Regions from separate parts of the Homo sapiens genome. Here region 2 is linked to region 1. The links come from fine-mapping of genetic effects on gene expression. Tissue or cell type: lung. Region 1 holds a variant in brackets; the other region holds the start of a gene. All regions are shown on one strand. Distances are between the middles of the regions. Region 1 overlaps TENM4 (teneurin transmembrane protein 4). Region 2 holds the start of TENM4 (teneurin transmembrane protein 4).

Evidence for each region.
Region 2: TENM4 starts here. The variant in region 1 is fine-mapped to the expression of TENM4 in lung (TOPMed, PIP above 0.99). The same link has a PIP of 0.9 or more in ileum.

Annotation. Positions count from the first base shown.
Region 1 is chr11:79,405,836-79,411,212 of GRCh38, reverse strand. The region is part of intron 1 of TENM4 (teneurin transmembrane protein 4); the gene reads left to right. Among named protein-coding and RNA genes, the nearest start is that of MIR708, 6.4 kb to the right of the region's middle. The variant A/C (reference allele first, on the strand shown) is at 3,018.
Region 2 is chr11:79,438,962-79,444,338 of GRCh38, reverse strand. It overlaps TENM4 (teneurin transmembrane protein 4), which reads left to right and starts at 3,309. Exons shown (of 34, transcript NM_001098816.3): 1 at 3,309-3,830. RefSeq lists silencers at 3,181-3,350, 3,611-3,720.

The DNA.
Region 1 (5,377 bases):
GAAAATACCATGGCCTGGGGAAGATCAAGGGTTCAGGAGTCAGGCAGTCTGTGTGTCCTACTAGCCCAGAAGCTTTAAACTTACCCTCTCTGAGCCTCACTTTTCCTATCTGTGAAATGGCCAAGTAGCCTGGATAGAAGGGCCAGGATCTACCACATGGAAGCAGAAAGTACAAGCTAGTAGAGAATATGGGTGCTGGCCCTGTAATGAGTGACCATATCCACTTGAGTGTGTGTTTGTATGTGTGTGTGTGTGTATGTGTGTGTAGAGGGGCACAGGGATGATTAACAAGGACAGAGGTAGGCCCGACATGGAGAAAGGTTCTCAAAGAACCCTCCCTGTAGAGTACAGGACTTACTATGGAGGTTTAGAGAGAAGGTAAGTGAAAGAAACGGGCAAGCAAGAAACTCACACTTATTAAATGCCTACCACGTACCAGGCACTTCACATCTCCTAAGCTCCTAGCCTTCACTGTAAACCCATCAGGCAGGCAATACTATTCCTAATTTTGAGATGGCCTCAGGAAAGGTCAGAGAAGGCAAATAAATTGCCCAAAGTCACAGCTCTTTGAATTCCAAAACTCTTTTCATATACACTTCTCTGCCTGTTCATACATATGTGTTAGGACAGGACTATATTCTGGGAAAAAGATGGAGTTGATATCAAGTGATAATAGTGTAATTCCTGTTTATAGAAACAATTGTAGGAGGAAGCCATTTCAAAGTGGTCATTTAGTCAGTTAATATGTATTGAGCCCCAGTCAGGCACAGTTCTAGGTGATGGGGATGCAGTAGAACCAGTCTCTCTGCCCTTGTGGAGAACTGAGAAGAGGAAACAAGTAAGTTCAGAAAGTGATCAGAGAGGAAATTAAACAGTGTGGTATGATGGAGCACTGGAGAGGTGCTGGGGACCTTAGATATTGTCTTAGTTTGGGTTCTTCCTAAAGCCCTGAGAAAAGGATTTGAGTGTAGGTAACAATTTGCAAGGTGATTCCAGGAAGCCTGCTGAGAAAGTAAGGAAGTGAAATGGGAAAGGAAGGGAAGCTAATAGAGCAAGCTTGTCCAACCCGCAGCCTGCAGGCTCCATGAAGCCCAGAATGGTTTTGAATGCGGCCCAACACAAATTCGTAAACTTTTTAAAAACTATGGGTTTTTTTGCTATTTTTTTTCTAGATCATCAGCTATCATTTTAGTGTATTTTATGTGTGGCCCAAGACAGTTCTTCTTCCAGTGTGGCTCAAGGAAGCCAAAAGATTGGATACCCCTGTAAACAGAGGGTAATTTAATGATTAGGTTACCACTGTGGGCAACTAGAGCTCATTCCTGCTGGGACCCTCAGAGGGACACTGACACATTTGCTGGACTATTGTTCCATCAGGGGCCAAGAAAGCTGGGGTATGTATCCACCTACAGATGTTCCTCATTGGTTGTGGAGCCTCCACCTCCAGAGAGTCCCAAAGCAGAGAAATATGTGTCTGACTTGAGTTAGGAAGCATTTATGGAGTGGAAGCAGTCTATGGAGGCTGCAGGTGGGTTGAGGGCATCCGTAGTGTCTGCTACAGCTGGTGTGCGTGGTCAGGCAGACTGCATTTGAGCTGAGACCTGGACTAGAGGGGGCAGCTATGGAGCAGCCAGAATGGTTCCGGGGGGGCTATTCTTCCACCCTCCTTCATGGGAACCTGCAGCTCCAAGAGTTAAAGTGCATCAGCAAAGGCGCAGCTGGTGAAATTCCCTAGCCACGCTGGATTCCTGCCGCCCCTCATTCCATTTTAACCCTTCTCCACTGGGTCACACAAATATGCCTCACTCTTATGAACCTGTGAATAGCCTTAGAAATGTATGCCTCATCAGATGATTTCAGTCCTGCTCTATGCCCCAGAATCTACCTTTAAATGCTTTAAACACTCCTAAACAGCTCTAAAATGTGCCCAAGTGTTCCCACCACTCTACCACACAGCTATTTTTAGCTCCAATGCCAATTTCTATTCCTTAGTATAATCTTTTTTTTTTTTTCTGGAAGAGAAGCTCACAACAAAATTTATCTCTACAGCTTATTCTAAAACCACTAACTCTCACGCATGTGCGTGCGCGTGCACGCACGCGCGCGCGCGCACACACACACACACACACACACACACACACACACACACACAAAATATCCCTCATAGACAACACTTTATAATTCAGGCAAAGGAAGACCAAAAGGAGAACTTAATACTTCTTATTTATTCCATTCAACAGTAAAGTGCCTTAAAAAGGCCATGCAATTATATTGTTATGTGATAATTATTAATTCTGCTATGAGCTTCCACTGAGCCCAGATCCCATCAAGCACCTCTAATTTTGCCTACAAGTCCTTCTGTACCACCTGATGGGTGCTGGGAAAAGAGCTGCCCTTCTCAACTCCTGGCATTTGGCTTTGATGGGTTTCCACTGCATATGCCTTCCTTTTTCATCAGCCACCATTTTCTAACATCTTTATGCATAAAAAAGACAAACTTATTGGGAGGAAATATCACAATCCCCCAAAATGCAATTTTCTTCCTTTCCATCTCCAATAAAGCATGTAGTGGAAAAGTTATTAGACATTTTTCCTAGTGGATTGTTTGTCAATAATATTAACAAAGCCAGTGTGTTGAATACCTGTATATGCCAGGTATTTGGGAGATTATTACAGAGGTTACATATTCTTGTTTAATGTAATCCTCAAAACGATTTTATTCAATAGTGATATTCTCTTTTTTAGATAAGTAGCTCTGCCTCTGTGACTTGCACATAAAGCAAATGGAAAAATCAAGGTTCCGACCCAAGTCTGTCTAATTCTAAAGCCCACGAACTCATAACCTGGCGTTTCTCTAAGTGTGGTCTCCGGACCAGCAGCATCAGCTTCACCTGGGAGCTTGTTAGAAATGCAAATCTTGGCCAGCATCCAGTAGAGTTTTTCCTAAGTTTTTCTCTAGGATTTTAACCAAAAGGAAAAGAAAAGGAAAGATGGCTGGGCGCAGTGGTTGGCCCAGC[A/C]TGGTGGCTTACACCTGTAATCCTGGCACTTTGGAAGGCCAAGGTGGGCAGATCACTTGAGGTCAGGAGTTCGATACCAGCCTGGCCAAAATGATGAAACCATGTCTGTACTAAAAATACAAAAATTAGCTGGGCGTGGTGACCGGTGCCTGTAATCCCAGCTACTTGGGAGGCTGAGGCAGAAGAATCACTTGAACCTGGGAGACAGAAGTTGCAGTGAGCCAAGATCATGCTCCTGCACCCCAGCCTGTGAGACAGAGCAAGACTCTCTTAAAAAAAAAAAAAAGAAAAAGAAAAAGAAAAAATGCAAATCTTCAGGTTCCACCCTAGAACTACTGAATGAGAAACCCTGGGGATGAGGCCCAGCAATTCCTGTTAACCAGCCCTCCAGGTGATTCTTAGCACAGAAAAGTTTGGGAAACACTATCTTCACCCATTTGTTAACTACTGATAAAGAGTTCAACTAGTAGATGAACTTTGAAGGAGGTTAAAATTTTCCCCTCTTCTTTGTGAATGTAATTAAAGTGATACAAATTTCAACAAATGTATATTTTTCTTCTAGAAAGCATGTCTTTTACATTTTGGGAGGTTTTAACTTTCTGTCACCTATCCTGATTTATATCTAGGTCTCGCTACTTATTAGCAGCAGGATCTTGGGAAAGTTACTTAACCTCTGTAAGCCTTGGTTCCAAGTCTGTGTATTGCAGATGAGCAGGATTCTTGTGAGTATTGAGTCAGGATCTGCGAAAGTGCTTAGCACGATATCAAGCATATCATAAATATCTAACAAATGTTAGCTGATTATTACTAATTACATGATTGGTTTGCTTGTTAGCTATTATTAGTAACAGTTTCTAAACTGTTTAATGCTTTTAAATTATATCCCTCATTAAGACGTCCAGCATCAGTTTTATAAAACAGTTTTCTATAACTGACCTAACTTTTAAATCCTGCCATTCTTATGTTTGACTCTTAGCAGTAAGTAGAATGATCAGAGTAACTGTCTGGAAGAGACCATCAATATTCCCATAAAAATTATTTATGGAAATCTGACACATAGTTAGGTACTCATACATATTCGTGGAGCAATGAATTGAGTGAATGATCAGTCCACACAGGCCACTTCTAGTCCAAATATTGGCCCCATACACTGACAGGTTGGGGGTCAGGGGCAGGAAACTGTCTCTTGTTCTCTGTTGATGGGCCCAGCACAGAGCATAGAGCCTGGCACAGAAGTAGATTGTCAATAATTACTTGATGATCAAATTTTTTTGCTTTCCTTTTGATACAGATATGCTTTGTTTCCTTAACCTCTTCTATCATAATATGCTTTGGGATCTGATAAGGAAAGATCAGAGTAAATATATATTTCTCTCCCTGTATACTCTGCTGCCCATATTTTTTTAAAAATACAGTTTTTAAAGAATTATCAAATAAGACTTAGGAGCCAGGAGACCTAGATTCTCCATTCTGCTTTGCTGCCAGGCTTAGATGTGACAAAGGCCTGACGCTTAACTCTTGGGTTCTTTTATTCCTGTGTAAATGGAGAAGGCTGGACTAGATAGGTGTTTTCCACGGGGGACTGGGACCAAATGGTTGCGTGTGTTACCTAAGCACGGTGTTAAGTAACATTGGATCACATGGTGAGAAAGTCTTGTTTCACTTCCTCTTTAATCTTTCTGATTTAGTGGAGGAGAAAGCCTGATTTTGGCACTGGTAGGTATTTAATACCTCGCCAATGCTTGTTCATCTCCCTGTTTAACAGAGACCTGAGTTTGGATGAGGAGGCAACAGTATTCACCTTGTTTTGTTCATCATATTCATTTTTTAACCTTTTTGTTTTCTATTCATGAAAAGATGGTGTTTTTTTCACTTAAGATAATGAGATACATTTTCCTTTTAAAATAAATTGATTCCAGAAACAAAGAGTCAGTTGAATGTGAAGAAAAATTGCACTAGGTTAATAATAGAGCAGATAGGCTGGGGGTGTGGCAGAAATCCAAAAGATGGAAGGAGCCTCATGCCACAATGACTGTCAGCAAGTCTCGGGTGCTACAGTGTAGGGAGAACAGAACCTTGTCTTTGGTCAAGATTGTATGTCTGCACAGTCAGGCCAAGAAACATCAGCCCTGGTGCGGTGGTTAAGGCTGGAACCATCAAAGTGAGCCCCCACTCCAACCTGGAGATCACCGTAGAGATTCTGGTCCCAGCTCTGGGGCAGGGCCAGATGTGTGCATTTGTAGACACCTCCATAGATGGGGTTCTCGCCCATCCGGAGTTCCAGATAAGGACATGCAGTTAAGAGCACATCTAGGAGCTAGTTGTTTTTTTTTTTTTTTTTTTTTTTTGAAATCACAATG
Region 2 (5,377 bases), 33 kb before region 1:
AGTAGCTGCATAATATTCCAACAAAGGCTGTCCTCCAGTTTACTTATTTTATTTGACCATTTAGGCTGCTTCAATTTTTTTCCCATTATTACAAATAATGTACTGTCATTATATCCAATCTCCTGTTTTTCTGGGCAATACGTAGAGCTGGCTGTTTGGAGGTCTTAGGCTGAATTTTACAACTAGTGTTTCCTATGGCACAGAGCAGCCATATAGGAGAATCTCCGGTTAGCTATAGAGTTAGATTATAACATGGTAGCAACTGACCTTTTTTCCCCCCTCTAAAATGCTCCCTGAATTCTACTTCCTCCTGAATACTCTTGACATCGCAATGAGTAGTACCACCTTCTATTGAGATACCCAAGCTTGAAAACTGAGTGTCACTTTGGGCTTCTCCTTGCTACCCCCATCCAATCAGAAATCAAAATCATCCTCAATCTCTCTCAAATCTCTCCTCCCTTTTCTGGCTTCATTGCAACTGCCTTAGTTTCCCTAAATGACCTACTTTTTCCTGCCTCTACTCTTCCTAAGTCACCCCAGTTAATCCATTTCTCTACACTGCTGCCAAATCATCTTTTGAAAACACACTCAAGATCACATCCTTCCTCTTCTTAAAAGCCTTTATTAACTGTCTACCCTCCTTCTGCCCCAGTACCTGAACTTTCAGGATGTTTGGATCCTTAGCCTCCTTCAGGCCCTGTCAAAATCCAATCCTAGATGCTAGGGACTCATCTAGACTCCTCCAAGACCCTCCCCCAATATGTCCAACTCTGCTATGAGTGTCTCATGCTTTTGTCCATGTCATCATACTATTGCCTGTACCTAAAAAGCATCTCCCCTCCTTTCACGGTCTAGCTAATTCCTTGCCTTCAAAACTCAGCTCAAGGCCAGGTATGGTAGCTCACACCTATAATCCCAGCACTCTGGGAAGCCTAGGGCAGAGGATTGATGGTATTTGAGACCAGCCTGGGCAACATAGTGAGACCTCATCTGTAAAACAAACAAACAAACAAATAAAATTAGTTTGGCGTGGTGTGGTGGCACATGCCTGTGGTCCCAGCTACTCAAGAGGCTGAGGTGGGAGGATCACCTGAGCTCAGGAGGTTGAGGCTTCAGTGAACCAAGATGGCACCACTGCACTCCAGCCTGGATGACAGAGTGAGAACCTGTCATCTCCTATGGGAAGTCTTCCCTTACTCCCAACAATTCCATTGGGCATCCCTCATGATTAGATTCAGGTTATTCATGTCTACCAGGAATATCACAGAAGTGATATGTCCTTCCCAGTGCACTATATCAGGGGCCACTTGATGTCTATTTGTCACATTCCTGCTAATACTGATTTTAATCACTCAAGGTGGAGTCTTTCAGGTTTTCTATTGAAAAGTTACTATTTTCCCCTTTGAAATTAATCAGTATCATGTGGGCAGATACTTTGAACCTATATATATTTTTTGTTTCTCAACATACTTTCACCCACTACTTTTAGCATCTGGGTCTCATTTTTCTCACTGGTCAAATGAAATGCATAGACTGAAAGTGATTTGCAAAATTATCACTCTCAAAGATCCCTTTCTTATACTCCCTGTCTTGGATCTTCTGTAATGAAAGAATTTGTCCACCAAACCAATGTTACTCCTTCAGGTACATGTGTCTCATTTTCTCAGTGTACATTCATGAAACATGCCTACTGAACTGTAAGCTCAGAAAACAGGGCCTGTTTGTCTCACCACTGAATGCCGAGACCTATCACAGCACCTGCCACAAAGTAGGTGGTCAAGAAATATTTGTTGAAGGACTAAATCTAACTGCCAATCACAGCTGATGCCCAGCATTTGATGTCTGCAGTGAGGACACAAAGTTGATAAATGCTATTCAAAGGCAGAGACTTGACATTTTAGTTAATCTCAGAGGCTTTGTCACTGGTCACTGTACACTTATCATAAAGATTTTAAAAATAGATTGGACAGATTGTGTGGAAACTTCCCACCCACCCCAACCCATCCCTGCCTTTCTGAGATGCCCTAGTTATGAGATGTTGAAGGGGCATTCCAGCACCCCACGTTTATAATCTGTGATGCCTTTATAATCAGCATATGGCAACTGGCTAGACAGTCTCCTCACCACACAGAAGAGTTTTCAAAATAGCCTACCCCTCCTTTCACATTTATGTGAAATTAGCATTGTCACATTTCCTCCTTCATTGACTACTTTAGATCAGAGAGACACACTGTAGCAGAAGATCATGAAGGAAGTTGTCTTAAAGAAGGAAACTAACATAAATTAAGCATCTCATATACACCCAGTGCTTTCTTTCCATTGTTCTCTCTTTTAATCCTCACCAAAACTGGTGAAGTCGGTATCATCCATTTTATAGATGAGAAAACTGAAGCCGGGTAAGGGGAAATGGCTCGCACTAAGTCCTTTAGCCAGCAGGCAGCAGGGCTGGAGTGGGAATTCCTCCAGTCTCTTCCCCAAAGCCCTTCCAAGTTGCCACTCAGTCAAACTACCGCTCTCATCACATAAAAATGCCCTTCTCTTGGAAATGTGCTTGCCATCACGATCCAAACATTCGAGGGACAGAAATCTCTTGGACCGCAATCACTGCTATTTTTTAAGTGATTGTTATCACGACTCAGTAGCTGTTACCATGGTTTTGGGGAAGTTGTCCGAGGAAGGAGGGCCTTTCTTTGGGCATCTTGCATGCCTGAAGAAGGAACTCAAGATCTCAGCTCTTAATTACTCTGATTGTGCTGCAGTAGCAACTTGAAAGAGACCGTCCCTAGAAAAGTGTTGGGGTGGGGGGTGTGGAGTAACATCCAGCGAGCAGGCAGAAGGGAGGCCCTGGGCGCCAGAGAGACCCAGGGAAAGGCGAAGAGGAGGGAGAGGGGACGAGACCGTGCTACGGGGAGCCTGGAGAGAAAGCCAAAGGAGGAGGAAAGAACAAAAGGCAAGAGGAGAGGAAGTACAAGAAAGTCCAGAAAGGAAAAGAGAAAGTTTCAGAAAGGGGAAGAGAAAGCAAGCAAGGAGGGTAAAAGAAGAAAGAGACCAGAAAGATACCGAACTGAGAGAGCTCGGAGAACTCGAGAAAGCAAAGGAGGTAAAAGGAGAGAAGATGGAGAAGGCGGCGGAGAGGAAGGGGGAAGGAGACAGAGGAACCGAGACTGGGGTGAGGGAGCGGCCGCGCGTGGCCCCCGGAGAGGCGCCCATCACCTGCGTGGCGCCCCCCCGCGCCGGAGTGCGGCCCTGCTCCCAGCGCCAGTGCGCCGCGCGGCTCGCCGGCCTCGTAGGATTGGCTACCGCCTCCCATTCATGTAACCTGCGTGTGCGTGTGCGTGTGTGTGTGTGTCTCTCTCTCGCTCGCCCTCTCTTTCTGTGTGTAAGAGAGCGAGGGTGGGGGACGGAGGCAGGCAGGCGAGCAGGCAGGGAGGGGAAGAAGAGAAGGGAAGCTATTAAACACACACACACACACACACACTCACACACGCGCGCGCACACACCCGCCCCAACCCCCCAGAAGCCTCGGGATTGCAGCTGTTTCATGTGGGGCAGCAGTGCTGGCAGGGACGCCGGCCGGGAGCGGCCGGGAGCGGGAGCCGGTCGTGCGCGCGCGGCTGGAGGCTCGCTGGGGCTCCGCTCCCCGCGGGAGCTATTGTTGGTCTCGCTGGAGCTGAGCGCAGAGCCCGGACCTGCTCCTTCCTGGGCGCCCCGCTACGGCTCGCGGAGCAGAGGAGCCGCGCCGCCGAGAGAGAGAGGAGCCACCGGCGCGGCGCCTTGCCTCCCTGCCGCCGTCCTCGCCGCTTCCCCGGCGGTAGCAGCCTGCAGCCACGGTAAGGCGGCGTGATCCGCTCTACGGAAAAGCGCCTTGGGGACCGCGGCGACGCCTCGCCAGCTCCATCGCCCTCTGCACTGCTGGCCCGGGCAGGGTTCGGGTAGCTCACGCGGCTGCCGAGGGCTCCGGGAGATGTTTGCTTGCTCCCCTGGCCCAGGAGGAGGGAGGCTAGGGCGCGGGTGGCCGAAGAGGCAAGCTGTTCTGGAGCCTGGAGCCGCCGCAGCCCCCGGAGCCCGCCGCGGACTGGAGCCTGGGAGCAAGGGTTGGGGGAGGGCAGGGAGGTGGGAAGCGGGTGGGAGGGAGGCGGCGCGCCCCAGGTTCGTCTGCCTCTCCCGGATCCCGTTCCCCGCCCCGGCCCGGTCGCCTGCAGCCCCTCTGCAGACTAGCTCGCCCCAGGCCCCCGTCGGGCGCTGGAGGAGCCCGCGAGGCGGCGCCGGGCTTCAGCGGCTGCAGCCTGCCCTGCGGGGCAAGTGCCGGCTGCAGCAGCCCCGCACGGGCGGTGGTTGGAGCTCAGATCCTGGAGATGCGACCCCAGCTCCTCGCCCTCTGCAACCCGCGGGGCGCCCGCCTCTCCTCACCGGGCGCCCGGCCGCGGTATTGATGTTCGTCTAGGAGCCAACTGAGGCTGCAGCCGCCAGATGGACGCTTGGAGGGCTCCCGGGTGTGAGTGTGACTGTATGACTACTCTCACCCCCAGCTTCGGGAAATGTGCTCTGGGTTGAAATGTGATCACCGAGCTCCTCAGTCATTTTAATTGCCATTTTTAAATGCGGTCGTTACATTGGAGGAGCAGACTGGAAGGTAGTGGGGCGGCGTGTGTGTGTGTGTGTGTGTGTGTGTGTGGACACACACACGCAACCGAGGAATACACAACCAACTACTTGGGTGAAGGGCGGGGGGTTCACCTAGTGAGTCCTTCTTGGCGGGGGGGTCGGGCGAGTTAGCTGCCCGCTGCCCGCCCCTTCTCTGCCTGCCCCCGCCTAGGCGAGGTTGGAAAGTACTGGAAATTCAGCTGCGTGGTCCTTAACTTTGGAAATTGGCTCCGCTTTCAGGGCAAAATGTTAAGGCGATTTATGCACCCGCGTCCATGTGGATGAGTGTATTACTGCTCAGTTGGGTGCAGAGCCCTCAACAGTACCGCGCCAAGCCCCCACCCGATCTCTAACTCCCTCCCACCCCCTAACCGTGGAGAGAGGGTTTATAGAAATGCAGTTATCTGTAAACCATCGACGCAGTGAAAGGGGCGCAGGGAGGCAGCCAGAGTTTTGCCTGAACCTGCATACTGGCTTGGTGTTTGTAGCACACGAGATCACCCCGCTGCTTTGTAGAAGGCGGTGGTGGGGCAAGCTCGGGATTCCAATCGCCGGGGTGGGGGGTGGGGGGAAGAGGGTGCCCATGTACTGAGCTCTGAGGCCGAGTAAGGAGAGAGATCTGCTGAGCGGCATCGCGGGCAATTACATAAGCTGCCTCGGTGATTACCCGGAACTGTGATGCGAGCTCCCGGTTCTCGAAAGACAAGCCTGAAAGTTTGCCTGCTTGGGGAGT